5 linked regions of the Homo sapiens genome follow. The protein of the gene in region 1 purifies or fractionates together with the protein of each later gene. This does not show direct contact. Each region holds a gene or a part of one and is shown in the gene's direction. Other genes may lie near its edges. The genes, in order: STK38, PRDM4, ILKAP, MOV10 and RBM34.

Region 1 (3,519 bases):
TAAACAGATTAATGTCCTGAATTCATAAAGAATTCCTATGAATCAATAAGAAAAAGGACAACACAACTTAAAAAATACTAATGGACAAAGGATCTGAATAGGAATTCATAATAAAAACCTGGATGGCTAATTAAAATATGAATATGTGCTCAACCCTACTTGAAATAAAGTAAATGCAAATTAAAACAAGATCCCAGCCATGCTGGCACATCCCTACAGTCCCAGCTACTCAGGAGGCTGAGGCAGGAGAATCCCTTGAGGCCAGGATTTCAAGGCTGCAGTGAGCTATGATCATACCACTGCACTCCAGCCCGGGTGACAGAGCAAGACCCCATCTCTTAAAAAGAAAAAAAAAGAGATCCCATTTCATATTCATCAGATTGGTAAAAATAAAAAAAAATCTGACAAAGCCAAGTCTTGATGAGATATGGAGTACCAGAAGCTAATCCCCACCGGGGTTGGTTTAAATAGGGACTAACTACTTTGGAGGACATGGAAGATACCTCAAGTTTAAATGCTTATAACCCAAGGCTCAGCAATATTCTAGTTAATACTCTAGAGGAATGCTTGCACAGTGCCCAAGAAGGTATTAAAAGAATGTTTATTCAGGTGTTATTTGTCATAGTGAAATACTGGAAGCACTGTAACTGTCCATTACAGAAGAACGGATAAAAACTATTGTGACTAATTTATATAACAGTATAGCATACGGCAGAGAAATGAGTGAACTAGAGCTACATGAATAAATCTCAAAACGAATGTTAAGACAAACAAGGCCGGTTGCGGTGGCTCACTCCTGTAATCCCAGTACTTTGGGAGGCTGAGGTGGGTGGATCACTTGAGGTCAGGAGTTTGTGACCAGCCTGGCCAATGTGGTGAAACCCTGTCTCTACTAAAAATACAAAAAATTAGCCAGGTGTGGTTCATCTCAAAAAAAAAAAAAAAGACAAATGATCTGAGACAAATATGGCAAATTATTAATCTTTTTAATGTGGGTAATGGGTCTGTATTGTATTGTCTGTTCCTTTTTTCTGTATGTTTGTAATATTTCATAATACATGTTTTAAAAACAATACAACTGTAATTTAAAAAATTATATAATATTTAAAGCACCTAGATCAGAGCCTTACACATGGAAGCCCTCAAATGTTAAGTACATTAGGAGGCTTTGATTGTACTTTCTCCTCTTATTTTGCAGTCCTGGTATGTTAGAGTAGAATACTGGAATGCAGAAAATGTTTCTCTTGGTCAGGTGCGGTGGCTCACACCTGTAATCCCAGCACTTTGGGAGGCTGAGGTGGGAGGATCACTTGAGCCAGGAGTTAAAGACCAGTCTGGGCAAGATGGCAAAACCCCATCTCTACAAAAAAATTAAAAAATTAGCCAGGTGTGGTGGCATGCACCTGTGGTCCTAGCTACTATGGTGGCTGAGGTGGGAGGATCTCTTGAGCCTAGGAGTTTGAGGTGAGCCATCATCGTGCCACTGCACTCCAGCCTGGGCCCACAAAGGGAGACCCCCATTTCTTAGAAAAAGAAAACATTCCTCCAAGAACTATATACAAAAACAATTAAGTTTGGTAAATAGGTATTTATAAATGTTTAAGTTATAGGATATAACTTTAGCTTTTGATCATATAGCTTCCCTTTATGATTGTGTCAAATCAAAGAATGTGTATCATAGAAAGAGGGATGGTTTGGAGTAAGATACTATAATTCCTATTTTTTTTTTTTTTTTTTTTTGAGACAGAGTCTCACTCTGTCGCCAGGCTGGAGTGCAGTGGCACGATCTCGGCTCACTGCAACCTCCGCCTCCCGGGTTCAAGCGATTCTCCTGCCTCAGCCTCCCGAGAAGCTAGGACTACAGGTGCACACCACCACGCCCAGCTAATTTTTGTATTTTTAGTAGAGACGGGTTTTCACCATGTTGGCCAGGATGGTCTCCATCTCTTGACCTCGTGATCCGCCCACCTCAGCCTCTCAAAGTGCTGGGATTACAGGCGTGAACCACCACTCCCGGCCAGATATTTAATTTTTAAACTGGGCTCTACCACCTAACTAGTTCTGCGGTCTCAGGCAAAGCCATTTTGAGCATCAAATTGTATCTGCAAAGTTAAGCTAATAAGGTCCTCCTTGGAAAAGTTTTGTCAGGATTAAATGGACTCATGTATATGAAGTTATATATATATATAAAACTCATGTAATATATATATTAAGTACAGAGCCTAGTACTTAATGGGTGCTCAGTAAATTGTAATACCAGTTATTATGACACAGATGCCTTCGCCCTAGTGACTCATAGTTAAGGGTCTCCTGCCTCATGAACAAAGCTTTATTGTTCATTTTGGAAAGTGCTTTGGGAAATCGAGCTTGCCATTAAGCTACTGGGCAGTCCTGCTTATTTAGCTTGGGGGTAGCTTCTGATGTTACTCATAGCCTTTGGTTTCTAGAACAGAACTCTGGGCACCTCCTGCCTGGCTGGGCCTCGCTGATGTGTGGTCCATGTTTCAGGCCTTCTCCACAGTAGGCACTCCTGACTACATTGCTCCTGAGGTGTTCATGCAGACCGGGTACAACAAGCTCTGTGATTGGTGGTCGCTTGGGGTGATCATGTATGAGATGCTCATCGGTAAGTTGCATGGTTTCAGAGGACTTTTTCTGTGCATCCATGACAGACTTTTACATTGATACCAGCCTCTGTTTCAATTGGCAGTGATCTAAGTGATTTCCCTACTTGTCTTTCAAAGTGAATTGTTTTAGACAGATGACACCTCTTTCAGTAAGATGTATCCCACTCCATTCTTGGGCTTACTGGCATCCTGCAATTGCTTTGCTGATCATTTTTTATGTTTTTCTTTCTCTTATACCTTCATCTTCTCCATCTAGAAGCTCTTTTAGTCACTAGCATTTATTAAATATCCGTTGTATGCAGAGCACTTCAACTGGGCATTGCCTCACTTTCCTAATTTGCCGCCCCCTTCCTCTGTCAAAGCCTTCAAATCATGGGACCCTCTGGCCTCTCTCCCTCTTATTGTATTGGTGTGTCTCTGTATTTATGGGACGCATCTGTGGGGGTGGTCATATGCCAGTGAGCACTAGATTAAGTATATCCTTGGTGGTTCCGGGTGAGTCTATCTGGCTGCTTTGGCTTCAGGAACATGGGAACGATGCCTGTGGAGGTGGGCGTACACCGTCTGGAGGGAAGATGGGGTGATAGGGTGTGTGCGTGTTTGTCTTCTTGCCTGTAGTTCTCAAAAAGAGGCATGGTGGTCATTTTTAAAATCTATGCTTTTTTCTTATTCAAGTTATTTGGTACTTTACCCATATAAGGGTATTTCTGGAATGATATTGTTTCATCCTTTCATTTCTTCTTTGGGCATGGTGATTCCCACACCTGCAACTCTATTTATGTCCTCCTTTCTTTTCCCAGCTCTACCTATTAGCTGACTTCCTAGTGGTACCAGAGGCATGATTTCACTTTGGGTCTGGGAGTTTGGGGGAAAATGAAAAATAGGTTTAGGT
Region 2 (3,519 bases), on another chromosome or scaffold:
CGCACTTTGGGAGGCTGAGGTGGGCAGATCACTTGAGGCCAGGAGTTCGAGACCAGCCTGGCCAACATGGTGAAACCCTGTCTCTAGCAAAAATACAAAAATTAGCTGGGTGTGGTGGTGTGTGCCTGTAATCCCAGCTACTCAGGAGGCTGAGGTAGGAGAATTGCTTGAACCCAGGAGGCCGAGATTGCAGTGAGCTGAGATCACACCACTGCACTCCAGCCTGGGCAACAAAGCAAGACTCCGTCTCAAATCAATCGATAAATTAATTAATTAAATATTTTTGTATTTAAGCGCAATACAGACAATTGGAGTATCAACTTGCCGGTTTAGAACTAACTTAAAAACTATCTTTGGGACTAAGACTACTTTCTTTAGGCTTATTTGTGGATATTTGCACATTATCTAAGGATGAAAAGGGCTAGTAGGTGAGATTTTTGCCCATGTGTAAAAACCTTTCTAAGAGTTTAGCCAGTGGTTGTAGTGAGAATTTTTAATTACCTATTTTCTTTTAACTGAGAAAAAAAATTTTGTTTTGTAGGCCTCCCAGTGGCAATTCCAAACCTGGGTCCCTCCCTGAGCTCTCTGCCTTCTGCTCTGTCTTTAATGCTACCAATGGGTATTGGGGATCGAGGGGTGATGTGTGGGTTACCTGAAAGAAACTACACCCTACCTCCACCACCTTACCCTCACCTGGAGAGCAGTTATTTCAGAACCATTCTACCTGGTAAGTGTTACAGTTACTTGAGATGTTAGAGAAAAAGAACGGCGCCAGCTTTTAAACTTTTATCCTGAAGATATGAATAACACTTTTTTCTGTTTGTCACTATTAGATATTAATCTCTAGGCAGGAAAAGTATCTTTGTTTATATTTATGTACTTTTCCTCTTAGAATGTGGCACATAACACATTAGTAATACAGTTTGACTAAGCTGAATTTCTTAATTGCACATAATTTTTCTTCTTTCTCCTCCAGTATCTCTTTCATTTGGTGTTTATAATTCTACAGCTATAATTTCAGTCAAGCACTATAGTGTCTTGTTATAGTGTCATGTTTTTTAAGTTCATTGAATTTTTATTCTGTTATAGGAGTATTATATGCTTATTGCGGAAAATTTAGCAAATAAGGGAAGGAACCACTCAGTCCCATCATCCATCTTTTTGGTGTACTTCCTTCCTGCCATTTGTTTTGGTGTATAGGTTTTTACCAATTTTCATAATTAAGACCACGGTTTCTTCTCTTGCTCTCTTTTTTCTTTTCTTTTTTTTTTTTTTCTTTTAATGGAGACGGAGTCTCAACTATTTTGCCCAGGCTGGACTGGAACTCCTGGACTCCAGTGATTCTCTCACCTCAGACTCTTGAGTAGCTTGGAATACAGGCACATGCCTGCCTTGAGACCATACCATATTTCATTTCTTTTTTATAAATAACTTTTTTAAAAAAAGAGATGGGGTTTTGGCATGTTGCCGAGGCTGGTCTCGAACTCCTGCGCTGAAGCCATCCGCCCACGTCAGCATCCCAAAGTGCCGGGATTACAGGCATGAGCCACTGTGCCCTGCCCAAGACCATACTTTCTATACGATTGTCTGTCTTTACTTTTTTCACTTTATCTTTTTCTCTGCTGTTACATGGGTATTTTCCTTTGCTGCTACGTGGTTTTCATAATTATCCTTTTTAATGATGCATTACTTTCTACTGAATGGGTATTTGATGGTTTATTATCTTTATTGTTGGACAGTTTGGTTTTTCCAGTTTTTATTACCATTGTAACTAATGCTCTTATGAACGTCTTTATGTATAATATTTACAAAATGGATTTAGAGAAGAGTACCTTAAGTGGAATTTCTTGTGCAAGAGGGTATTAACATTTTTGAGGCTCCTAATATATATGCTTCACAAAGAAGTTTTAGCAGTTTACATTCCCTCTGGCAGTTTAGTAAGTATCATTTCACCATATCCTCCCAAGCACAAGTGTTAATTTTTTTTTGTTTTAATAAAACAGGTACAATTGTGACTTGTATTAAATAGTTTGTGTTATGATAGTTTAATTATATTAAATTATATTTAATTAAGTTTTATTTTTCACATGGAAGATCTGTTTTTAAATCATTTTACCTTTTAATAATTAGGAGAGCAAATTTTACACCTTAGGACTCAGGAATTGCAACCATATGTATATTAAAAGCAGTGTTTTCGTTAGTGATTCCCAGTTAGCTTCAAAGGAACATAGTTAACTTTTTTAGGATTTTCGAGTTTTACAGGAAAAACTCAATTACGGTATATGTATGTTGCTATTTATAAAATAGTGTGTATCGATTAAATTAAAGAAGCAGGAGATTATTTGAACTTAGTTATGTTTGTAAGGAAATAGCGTCTAGTGCTTGGAATTCTTTAATAATGTACTAAAAGTCTCTGATATCTCATCTTTTCCTTTTCTCAGGCATTTTATCTTATTTAGCTGACAGACCACCTCCACAGTACATCCACCCTAACTCTATAAATGTTGATGGTAATACAGCATTATCTATCACCAATAACCCTTCAGCACTAGATCCCTATCAGTCCAATGGAAATGTTGGATTAGAACCAGGCATTGTTTCAATAGACTCTCGCTCTGTGAACACACATGGTGCCCAAAGTCTTCATCCCAGTGATGGCCATGAGGTGGCCTTGGACACAGCAATCACTATGGAGAACGTTTCTAGGGTTACCAGCCCAATTTCGACAGATGGAATGGCAGAGGAGCTTACGATGGACGGTGTTGCAGGCGAGCATTCCCAAATCCCAAATGGCTCCAGAAGTCATGAACCTCTGTCTGTGGATTCTGTGAGCAACAACCTTGCAGCAGACGCTGTAGGACATGGTGGTGTGATACCCATGCATGGGAATGGCCTGGAGCTCCCTGTGGTCATGGAGACAGACCACATTGCAAGTCGGGTCAATGGCATGTCTGACAGTGCCCTCAGTGACTCCATTCACACTGTGGCCATGAGCACCAACTCTGTAAGCGTGGCACTCTCTACCTCACACAACCTTGCCTCCCTAGAATCTGTTTCCCTCCATGAAGTTGGCCTCAGCCTAGAACCTGTGGCTGTCTCCTCCATCACCCAGGAGGTTGCTATGGGGACAGGTCATGTAGATGTATCTTCAGACAGTCTTTCTTTTGTATCACCTTCACTGCAAATGGAAGACTCCAATTCAAACAAGGAGAACATGGCAACCTTGTTTACAATTTGTGAGTGTGTTTAGCCTTTCTTTTTTGGAAATATTTGTAAAAAGGGCCACCATCCCTAACAAGTTAAGTCGTAAAGTTTGGCATTAAGGGAGTATAGAAAGCAACTAGACCTTGGAACTTTTCTTTGCCTTGGTATTGTCCTTTATATTAATGTGGTGCCTTTTCTTCAAGTAAGCCAAATGATATACATACATTTAGTTGGTTCTTAGAGCATCCTCCTGAAGAAATGAAATGTGAAGTAGTCATTTTTGTATTTTGCAGATAAGCTTAGCACATGCGGTAG
Region 3 (3,519 bases), on another chromosome or scaffold:
GCAGGTATATTTTCTATATTTTAGGAAAAGTACTCCAGTCATCTTATATAAGAATTCTCAATCTTCAGGGCTGTAGACCCATACCAAAAAATTGCAGCATCCTCACACTCACAGTGTGGCCTGAAACCTTCCCAATAAAGATAGTACCCTTAGTTGTAATGAAAGTTAATATGTTCTGGCTGGGCGTGGTGGCTCACGCCTATAATCCCAGCACTTTGGGAAGCCAAGGCGGGTAGATCACTTGAGGTCAGGAGTTCAAGACCAGCCTGGCCAACATGGCGAAACCCTGTCTCTACTAAAAATACAAAAATTAGCCAGGCATGGTGGCATGTGCCTGTCGTCCCAGCTACTCAGGAGGCAGAGGCAGGAGAGTCGCTTGAACCCAGGAGGCAGAGGTTGCAGTGAGCTGAGATCACGCCATTGCACTCCAGCCTGGGTGACAGAGAAAGACTCTGTCTCCAAAAAAAAGGAAAGTTAATATGTTCAAAGAAGGCTGTTAAGGGATTTAATAGAAGAAATGAAGATACAGCATAGCTGTCTCTTATTTATCTACAGGACAAAAGGCAAAGTAGTAAAAAATTTAGAAGATTTACATAACACTATTAACAAGCTTAATTTTTTGGATATATAATCTTGGGTCTAGTGTTTTAGATTTCTAGAGAAGTTAACACATTTTTTTTTTCTTGAGACGGAGTCTCACACTCTCACCCAGGCTGGAGTGCAGTGGCACAATCTTGGCTCACTGCTACCTCCACCTCCCGGGTTTAAGCGATTCTCCTGCCTCAGCCTCCTGAGTAGTTGGGACTACAGGCGTGTGCCACCATGCCTGGCTAATTTTTGTATTTTTAGTAGAGACAGGGTTTTCCCATATTGGCCAGGCTGGTCTCGAACTCCTGACCTTGTGATCTGTCCGCCTCAGCCTCCCAAAGTGCTGAGATTACAGGCGTGAGCCACTGCACCCAGCCGATAACACATTCTTTTTTTTTTTTTCCTTTTTTGAGACTGTCTCTCTCTCTGTTGCCCAGGCTGGAGTGCAGTGGCGCGATCTCAGCTCAGTGCAAGCTCTGCCTCCCAGGTTCATGCCATTCTGCTGCCTCAGCCTCCCAAGTAGCTGGGACTACAGGCTCCCGCCACCACGCCCACCTAATTTTTTTGTATTTTTAGTAGAGATGGGGTTTCACCATGTTAGCCAGGATGGTTTCCATCTCCTGACTTCGTGATCCGCCTGCCTCGGCCTCCCAAAGTGCTGGGATGACAGGTGTGAGCGACCTTGCCCGGCCCGATAACACATTCTTAAGCGGGCAGGAACCATTTACAAAAGTTGATTATGTACTAAGCCATAAAATAAGCCTCAATGATCTGTTTCTTGTACAGACTACATTCTCAGACTACAGTGTAATTTGCTTAGAAGTCAATAACAAACCTGTAAGGTGTCTTTATTTTGAAATTTTATTATTTTTCTTTTTTTCTTTTTCTTTTTCTTTTTTTTTTTTTAAGACAGTCTCACTCTGTTGGCAGGCTGGAGTGCAGTGTTGCGATCTCAGCTCACTGCAACCTCTACTTCCCGGGTTCAAGTTCCTGTCTAAGCCTCCCGAGTAGCTGGGACTATAGGCACCTGCCACCACACCCAGCTAATTTTTTGTATTTTCAGTAGAGACGGGGTTTCACCATGTTGGCCAGGATGGTCTCAATCTCTTGACCTCATGATCCGCCTGCCTCTGCCTCCCAAAGTGCTGGGATTACAGGCATGAGCCGCTGCGCCTGGCCTTTTTCTTTTTCTTTTTTTTTTTTTTGAGATGGAGCCTTGCTCTGTTGCCTAGGCTGGAGCGCAGTGGCGAGATCTCAGCTCACTGCAGCCTCCGCCTCCTGGGTTCCAGTGAGTCTCGTGCCTCAGCCTCCCGAGTAGCTGGGATTACAGGCGCTACCATGCCCGGCTAATTTTTTGTATTTTAATTAGAGACCGGGTTTCGCCATGTTGGTCAGGCTTGTCTTGACCTTCTGACCTTAGATGATCTGCCCATCTCAGCCTCCCAAAGTGCTGGGATGACAGGTGTGAACCACCACACCTGGCCATCTGTTTTGGAATTTTAAAGGAAGAAAGTTTCACATCCATATGGGGAAAACTGGAACCCATACAGTAAGCCACAGGACACTAATGGGGACCTTTGGGAGAGATACTGTTGGAAACATCTGTGTTGCCTTATGCAGGGTGCATATGTGTATTATGTTATACTGTTGCAGAAATAGGGCCTTGTGCAACTAATTTACGCTTCTTGAGGGCAGGAACATTTTCATTACTTTTTCCTCAGCACTAAGAAATGTCTGACACAGGCGGTTCAAGACCAACCTACCCAACATGGTGAAACTCCGTCTCTACTAAAAATACAAAAATACAAAAATTAGCTGGGTGTGATGGTGCACTCCTGTAGGCTGAGACAGGAGAATTGCTTGAACCCTGGAGGTGGAGGTTGTAGTGAGCTGACGTTGCGTCACTGCACTCGAGCCTGGGCGACAGAGTAGACTCCGTCTCAAAAAAAAAAAAAAGACACCTTGTGTTTACCAAAAAAATTAAAAAATTAGCCGGGTGTAGTGGTTCCTGCTTTCAGTCCCAGCTGCTCAGGAGGCTGAGATGGAAGGATCACTTGAACACAGGAGTTGGAGGCTGCAGTAAACTGTGATCATGCCACTGCATTCTAGTCTGTGTGACAGAATGAGACCCTGTGTCAAAAACAAAAAGAAGAAGAAATGTCTGGCAAAGAGTAGGTTGAGTAAGTAAATAAGTACTTGCATCCTTTTTTTTTTTTTTTTTTTTTTTTTTTTAAAGAGAAACGTCTTACTACTTTGCCCAGGCAGGTCTCAAATGCCTGGGCTGAAGTGATCCTTCTGCCTCAGTCTCCAGAAGTAGCTGTGACTGCAGGCATGTGCCACTGCATCTGGCTGTTGCATACTTTTATACCTAAATGCAGAGAACATTTCAAGTCATTTATTAGGACAGCAGCTGCCCTTATTGGAGATTGATGTGTTAGGCACTGTGACAAATGCTCTTCCTACTTGTCCTGACCCATTTTCAAACATCCCTCTGAGATGACAGTATTCTTACCATGTTACGCACGGGTGAAGACAGCTGAGACTGAAAGATTAAGTTGCACACCTCTTTGAAACTTGACTTTTCTCATTTCAAACACATACACTGCAGATTCCCTTAGCTTTGAGTACAGATTCATCCTTTTGCTAGTGGGAACAGCTGTGGCAGCCTTATTTTGCCTTTGAAAGGATGTATTACAGTTCTTAAAGGCTGCCATTTACCTCATTTTGAGCCTTTTCGAGTACTTGTTACTTTTTGGAACGTGATTAGGATATGTTAGTTTGCTTACAGATTTTGTAAGTGTTTGTTTAACACTAAGAGCCTGTGGATATAAAAACATGTATATGCTACAGGCCAAAAAAAACCATGTATTTTTACCACTGGGAAAAGTCTTTTACAAACCCCTTCAGCAGGGTCAGTTTGACTCAGGGCCT
Region 4 (3,519 bases), on another chromosome or scaffold:
GTGTTTTCTTCCCTCGATTCTGCAGCGCTAAGGGCTATGACCTGGAGTTAAGTATGGCGCTGGGGACATACTACCCACCTCCCCGCCTCAGGCAGCTGCTCCCCATGCTTCTTCAGGGAACAAGTATCTTCACTGCCCCTAAGGAGATCGCAGAGATCAAGTAAGTACCATCCCTCTGCACCCCGCACTCTCCCGTCTTTTACCTACTGGCTTCTTTGCATTGCCCTGGCACCTCCGTCCTCAGCCTCCCAGGCTGTATTCATTCATTCCCTTACTGAGCACGCACCATACACCAAGCACCATTCAAGGTGAACCAGTCAAATGAAGGCCTGGCTCATTTTAATGGGGGACAATGAGCATTTTTGTTACAATTTCATGGAGTGATGAGTGCTGTGAAGAACTAAACAGGTCAGGTGTAAGTGGCTCATGCCTGTAATCTCAGCACTTTGGGAGGCCGAGGCAGGTGGATCATTTAAGCCCAAGAGTTCAAGACCAGCCTGGGGCAACATAGTGAGATTCTGTCTCTACAAAAAAAAATTTTAATTAGCCAAGTGTGGTGGCACATGTCTGTAGTCCCAGCTACTTGTGAGGCAGAGGTGGGAGAATTTCTTGAGCCCAGGAGGTTGAGGACACAGTGAGTGAGCCCAGATCATGCCACTGCACTCCAGCATGGGTGACAGAGCAAGATCTTGTCTCTAAAAAAGATGAACAGAACTATACTGAAACTAAAGCAGGGTTAGGGAATGGGTTGGTGCTGCTTTGCAGAAGGCCAGTTAGTCCTGGCCTGTTTGAGGTAGTGATGTTTGAACAGAGAAGGACATTTGAATGAGGTGAGGGTGGGAGTCATGAGAGGATTGGAGGAGAATGTTCTGGCCATAAGAGCCACCATGCAAATGCAAGTCGGGTGAGGTGGGGGCAGGGGCATCCAAGGAAGCAGGAGCCAAGGCTTCCTTCTTCAGGGCCTCTGACTCTCATCCACTTCTGTATCCCTCTAGTCTTCTCTGCTTTTTGACGCTAGTTCCAGAGCTTCAGGTGGGAGAAGGTGGATACTCCTGGGCATAGGGGTTGTCTGGCCCATCCTGTTCCTGCCCCCACTCACCCCTCCCAACCATCATTTCCAGGGCCCAGCTGGAGACAGCCCTGAAGTGGAGGAACTATGAGGTGAAGCTGCGGCTGCTGCTGCACCTGGAGGAACTGCAGATGGAGCATGATATCCGGCACTATGACCTGGAGTCGGTGCCCATGACCTGGGACCCTGTGGACCAGAACCCCAGGCTGCTCACGCTGGAGGTCAGGGCTCAGATTGAGTGTGAGGAGGGTGGGCTCAAGCCAGCCAAGCTAGAGGCTGTGGGCAGAACTATTCCTGACAGCAGGGCAGAACAAGAGGAAAGTTGAAGTGGTTCCCAGGGCTCCGCAAGAAGCAGGGTGGGCATCCTGTGCCCAAAGATGTGTTGGAGCAGGGAAATGGGGAAGATCTGGGTTCTAGTCCAGGCTTTGCTACCACCTTGGGTAAGTCCCTGGCTTTCTCTAAGCCTTAGTTCCCTTATCTGAAAAGCACAGAGCTGGACTGGATAATTCTTAGAGCTCTTTCTGGCTCTTGGATTTTCAATGTGTGCATATAAGCCCAAAATTACACACGAGAATGGATTTCTACACACAATTGCAGGTGGGAATTAGAGGGTGAGTTTGTTCAAGGAAAGATTACTGCAGGAAGTGAGTTTTGAACAAGTTTTTTGTTGTTGTTGTTTTTGTTTTGAGACAGGGTCTCACCCTGGTGCTCAGGCTGGAGTGCAATGGCATGATCTTGGCTCGCTTTAATCCCCGCCGCCCGGGCTCAAGTGATCCTCCCAAGTAGCTGGGACCACAGACATGCCCCACTACGCCTGGCTAATTTTTGTATTTTTTGTAGAGATGGGGTTTTGCCACATTGGCCAGGCTGGTCTCGCAACACCTGGACTCAAGTGATCCGCCTGCCTCAGTCTCCCAAAGTGCTGGGATTACAGGCGTGAGCCACCATGCCTGGTCCGTTTTTTTTTTTTTTTTTTTTTAATTATTTTTTTAGCAACCCGATTAACTGATGAACAGGATTTTTATAGGCAGAGCAGGAACTGAGCTGGCCAAGAGGGCAGCTGCACTGGAGGCTCCGGGTTCCTGGGCTCGGCATCTCTGGGCAGCTTCGGAGGATTTGTCTTCTTCCTCTTCCCCTGACTCCTGCTGGTATGAAAGGAAAGAGGGGTGCAGGGATAGCATAACTCCCTGAGTCTTAGGTTAGAAGGCCAGTCTCAGTCCTTGTCCCTTAAAGGTCTGGGGAACCTGGGGGCTGGGCCCTCCAGCGTCCATCCCTGGGACAGAAGCTTGCTTGTGTTCACACCCCATAGGTTCCTGGAGTGACTGAGAGCCGCCCCTCAGTGCTACGGGGCGACCACCTGTTTGCCCTTTTGTCCTCGGAGACACACCAGGAGGACCCCATCACATATAAGGGCTTTGTGCACAAGGTGGAATTGGACCGTGTCAAGCTGAGCTTTTCCATGAGGTGGGTGTTGGGGGAACCCTGAGCTGCTGGAAGGGTCTACAGACTTCTGACCCCAGGGGAGGAGGAGTGTTTCTCCCTGAGATAAATGAGACCCCGGGGCAGAGCAGGAGACTTTTCCTCAGGGGTACCCTGAGATGCTACGGCAGCTTCCTCTTCTAGAGAACTTGCATAGAGGTCTTGGAAAGAGGGGTTGGGACACTGGTTGGTGGAGAAAGTTCTGGCCCTTTATTGCCCACCTCCCCTGCCCCAACAAACTCTTACCACCTCTCTCTGCCCAAAGCCTCCTGAGCCGCTTTGTGGATGGGCTGACCTTCAAGGTGAACTTTACCTTCAACCGCCAGCCGCTGCGAGTCCAGCACCGTGCCCTGGAGCTGACAGGGCGCTGGCTGCTGTGGCCCATGCTCTTTCCTGTGGCACCTCGGGACGTCCCGCTGCTGCCCTCAGATGTGAAACTCAAGTGAGACTGTGGGCAGGGAGCTTCTGGAGCCACTTGGAGTGTGGGCACAGGGGGTGGAGTCAGGGAGGCCTCTGGGTCACTGGATGACTTCAAGTTCACATTCCTGGTCCCTCTGCCAGGCTGTACGACCGGAGTCTGGAGTCAAACCCAGAGCAGCTGCAGGCCATGAGGCACATTGTTACGGGCACCACCCGTCCAGCCCCCTACATCATCTTTGGGCCTCCAGGCACCGGCAAGACTGTCACGTTAGTGGAGGCAATTAAGCAGGTGGGGTCTGAGCACAAACCTGGGGCCTGCACTCTGATTCCCCCAGCACCAAGCAGTTGTCCCCAGATTCTAGTTCCTTCCCACTCCCGAAATGCTCCTGCTTCTAAGCAGCCATCAGAAAGAGAGGTAGGGGCCGGGTGCAGTGGCTCATGCCTGTAATCTCAGCACTTGGGGAAGACTAGCCCAAGGAGTTCAAGACCAGCCTGGACAATATTGCAAGACCCTATCTCTATGAAAAATATGAAAAATAGCTGGGCACTTG
Region 5 (3,519 bases), on another chromosome or scaffold:
CCCACCAGACTCGGGAGCCCAGCTGGCTTCACCCAGTGGATCCTGCACCGGGGCTGCAGGTGGAGCTGCCTGCCAATCCCATGCCGTGCGCCTGCACTCCCCAGCCCTTTGGTGGTCGATGGGACTGGGCGTCGTGGAGCAGGGGGTGGCGCTCCTCGGGGAGGCTCGGGCCGCACAGGAGCCCATGGAGGGGGTGGGAGGCTCAGGCATAGCGGGCTGCAGGTCCCGAACCCTGCCCTGCGGGAAGGCAGCTAAGGCCCGGTGAGAAATCGAGCGTAGCGCCAGTGGGTTGGCACTGCTGGGGGACCCAGTACATCCTCCGCAGCCACTGGCCCGGGTGCTAAGCCCCTCACTGCCCGGGGCCGGCAGGGCCTGCAGGGCCGGCCGGCTGCTCCGAGTGCGGGGCCCGCCAAGCCCACGCCCACCTGGAACTCCAGCTGGCCCGCAAGCGCCGCGCAGCCCTGGTTCCCACTCGCGCCTCTCCCTCCACACCTCCCTGCAAGCTGAGGGAGCCGGCTCCGGCCTTGGCCAGCCCAGAAACGGGCTCCCACAGCGCAGCGGTGGGCTGAAGGGCTCCTCAAGTGCCGTCAAAGTGGGAGCCCAGGCAGAGGAGGTGCGGAGAGCAAGCGAGGGCTCTGAGGACTGCCAGCACGCTGTCACCTCTCAAGAAGAATCCAGGTGGGGCTTTGTGCCTTTCCCACACTTTGGCCATTCCGTCCTCCAGGCCTGCAGCACCCATAGCTGCGATCTCAGCCTTTCCCAGGGAGTGGAGGTCAGTGGGGCAGATCCTGAGGATGGGCGCACACTCCTGCCTCGGCAGCTTCCAGGACTTCTGTTTCAGGCCCAGCCCACGCTGAGCTCTAGTGTTTTAGTGAGATCATGGCTGGAATCTTTCCTGCTTGTCTGGTGCCCAGCATTTTGCCCCTGTGCTCGGCCATCGTAGAGCCAGAAGAGCCAGTGCTTCCTCTGTCTCTCATTGGAGGAAGCAGGCCTGTCCTTAGCTTCTAGCTGCTGGCTTTCCCCAAGACTTCAGCTCTGTGATGGCTGCAACAAAAGTTATGATGCTGTGGGTTATCTGGTTTCTTCTTAACTGGTAAGAGCAGGAGTGATGCACTTTCTGGCTTTTTACATTCTAGGTGGAAGCGGAACTCCAGCATTTGTTCCTGGGGGTGCACTAGGATGTGTTGGATTTGGATGTTGTCGGCAGCTGTGTGTTGTGTGAAGAGCAGGGCTCTAGAGTCAGCTAGACTTGGTTTCAGTCCTAGGCCAGCCACTTGTTGCCATTTCATCGCAGTCACGTACCTCTTCCAGTCTCAGCTTCCTTATTCATAAAATCAGAAAAAAAACACCGTGTTGGAGATGTGAGATTAAATGAAATACATAAAATGTCTAGCTGAGTGTCTGGTATATATTAGGCATTCAGTAAATCACAGCTGGTTTAATCAATACAAAAGCATTAGTATAGTGTATTATTACAGAATGCCATCAGTCATGTCAGGCACTATTTTCCAGTTCCCTTCTTGATGATACTCATTTGTGTAGTAGCATTTTTCTTACTTCAAAACAGTAGGTTGATGTCTTCAGGGAAAGATCTGTGTTCATTACTAGGTCCTTTTTGCTAACTCCTCACATCCAAATTATATCACCATTTTGCAAACCTAGTGACTTAATGAGTTTAGGCATTTAGTAGCAGCAGCTGCAGTCATTGACAAAAGGGTAAAAACCAGTCATAACATGACTCCCTGGAAAGAACACAACACCCACCAGCAGTCGCGACAAAGGGGTCATGTCTGAGTCTGATCCATCCTTTTGATGCAGCTGCCAGTTTACAAGAAATATAGAGGACAAAGGTTTGTGTTAAACTACTTGATGAGCTTGCAGTCACAAAATCCAGGCTGTGGGGAATTCTGCAGGCCAAATAGTGAGAGATAAAGAGATACAGAGAAAACTCTGTAAATTAAACAAGATTCAAAAGACATATCAGGTCAAAAGTATAGACAAGACCAAAGTATGATGTCTAAGAATAGACACTTGGTTGATAAAACCACAAAGATGTGCAGGGAAGTAGTTCCTATAAAAATGGGAATGGTGGTTGCCTTTGGAGGGAAGGAGGGGCTGCAACGGGAAAGGGCCACAGAGAGGCTTCTGAGTGGGCTACAAGGCACGTTGAGCTGTTGTTAATTCACTCAGCTATACGTAGTTTGTGCACTCTTCTATATGGGTGTTTCACAGTAAAGAGGAAAACTCACGTCTTTCACAACTGTTTATATGTGTGTTAGATACGGACTGCAGCTAAGATGTCAGTTTTTAGTTCTTGTATGGTTCTCAGGGATTCATATACATGGTTCATCTGTTTTCTCATGGTTATGATTCCTAAGAAAGTATGGGTTGTGTCTCCACTAATATCTTTATAAGTTGTGTGTTATTTTTTGAGTTATTACTAAATATTTATTCAAAGAGATGAAATGTCCACCCAGGAATTCTTGTCATGTGTGTTAAGAGTTGAAAACAGCTAGATTTTTTTCTAGTGACTTTGAGGCTAAGAAATTTACCTTGTCTCTCTTTTCTTTCTTTCTTTTTTTTTTTTTGGTGTAGACGTAAAATTCATCCTGATCAGAAAAATATTAATGCCTATGTTGTGTTTAAGGAGGAGAGTGCTGCCACGCAAGCATTGAAAAGGTAATTTTATCCCTTAGGTTTGAACAGAATAATTGTCCTATAAGTATGTATGAGTACTTTTTTTATTCTTTGGTTTCACTTTAGCATAGATGTTTTAGTAATCGAGTGCTCATTTTTAACAACCATTTTCCCTTTGTATTTATAATACAGAAATGGGGCCCAGATTGCAGATGGATTTCGTATTAGAGTTGATCTCGCATCTGAGACCTCATCTGTAAGTAGTACTTGATTTGTTTAAAGAACGAGAGCTTTGTAGAGAGAAATGTTTCCTTCCAGGCTTTTCCTGGAAGGGGACTGGAATCAGCAATGTGAGGGAAGCGCAGAAGGAAACAGCCTATGTCCTCTGTGGTTACAGAGTTGATGGCAAGAGAGGCACAAGGACCGAGGTCAACATTCCCTTCAAAAACGTAGTCCTGGCTGGGCACAATGGCTCATGCCTGTAATCCTAACATTTTGGGAGGCCAAGGCGGGAGGATCACTTGAGCCCAGGAGTTAAGAGCAGCCTGAGCAATGTAGCAAGACCCTGCCTTTACAAAAAAAAAAAAAAAAATTAGTCAAGTGTGTGATGCATGCCGACAGTCCCAGCTACTCAGAAGGCTGAGGTGGGAGCACCACCTGAGCCCAGGAGTTTGAGGCTGCAGTGAGCTGTAGTCGTGCCACTGCATTCTAGCCTGGGCAACAGAGGGCGACCCTGTTTCTTAAAAAGAAACAAAAACATAGTCCTCTTCAAATAAGCATAATTAGGTCAGAAGGTACATTAGACATCATCTGGTCTAACACATTATAGACCGAGGTCTAGAAAGTTCAATTATTCATTAGACAGTTTTTAGTACACACTCT

What was found.
Region 2: the proteins of STK38 (region 1) and PRDM4 purify together in Homo sapiens (affinity purification with mass spectrometry; one large-scale study listed by BioGRID and IntAct). This does not show direct contact.
Region 3: the proteins of STK38 (region 1) and ILKAP fractionate together in Homo sapiens (co-fractionation; one large-scale study listed by BioGRID). This does not show direct contact.
Region 4: the proteins of STK38 (region 1) and MOV10 purify together in Homo sapiens (affinity purification with mass spectrometry; one large-scale study listed by BioGRID and IntAct). This does not show direct contact.
Region 5: the proteins of STK38 (region 1) and RBM34 purify together in Homo sapiens (affinity purification with mass spectrometry; one large-scale study listed by BioGRID and IntAct). This does not show direct contact.

What each region holds. Positions count from the first base shown.
Region 1 is NC_000006.12:36,498,980-36,502,498, reverse strand, and holds part of STK38 (serine/threonine-protein kinase 38), read left to right. Parts: intron 1-2,508; coding exon 2,509-2,626; intron 2,627-3,519. UniProt on the Homo sapiens protein: Serine/threonine-protein kinase that acts as a negative regulator of MAP3K1/2 signaling. Converts MAP3K2 from its phosphorylated form to its non-phosphorylated form and inhibits autophosphorylation of MAP3K2.
Region 2 is NC_000012.12:107,751,132-107,754,650, reverse strand, and holds part of PRDM4 (PR domain zinc finger protein 4), read left to right. Parts: intron 1-541; coding exon 542-727; intron 728-2,441; coding exon 2,442-3,236; intron 3,237-3,519. UniProt on the Homo sapiens protein: May function as a transcription factor involved in cell differentiation.
Region 3 is NC_000002.12:238,190,179-238,193,697, reverse strand, and holds part of ILKAP (integrin-linked kinase-associated serine/threonine phosphatase 2C), read left to right. Parts: intron 1-3,519. UniProt on the Homo sapiens protein: Protein phosphatase that may play a role in regulation of cell cycle progression via dephosphorylation of its substrates whose appropriate phosphorylation states might be crucial for cell proliferation.
Region 4 is NC_000001.11:112,691,640-112,695,158, forward strand, and holds part of MOV10 (helicase MOV-10), read left to right. Parts: intron 1-25; coding exon 26-160; intron 161-1,121; coding exon 1,122-1,290; intron 1,291-2,378; coding exon 2,379-2,533; intron 2,534-2,813; coding exon 2,814-2,990; intron 2,991-3,109; coding exon 3,110-3,257; intron 3,258-3,519.
Region 5 is NC_000001.11:235,137,251-235,140,769, reverse strand, and holds part of RBM34 (RNA-binding protein 34), read left to right. Parts: intron 1-2,595; coding exon 2,596-2,679; intron 2,680-2,829; coding exon 2,830-2,893; intron 2,894-3,519.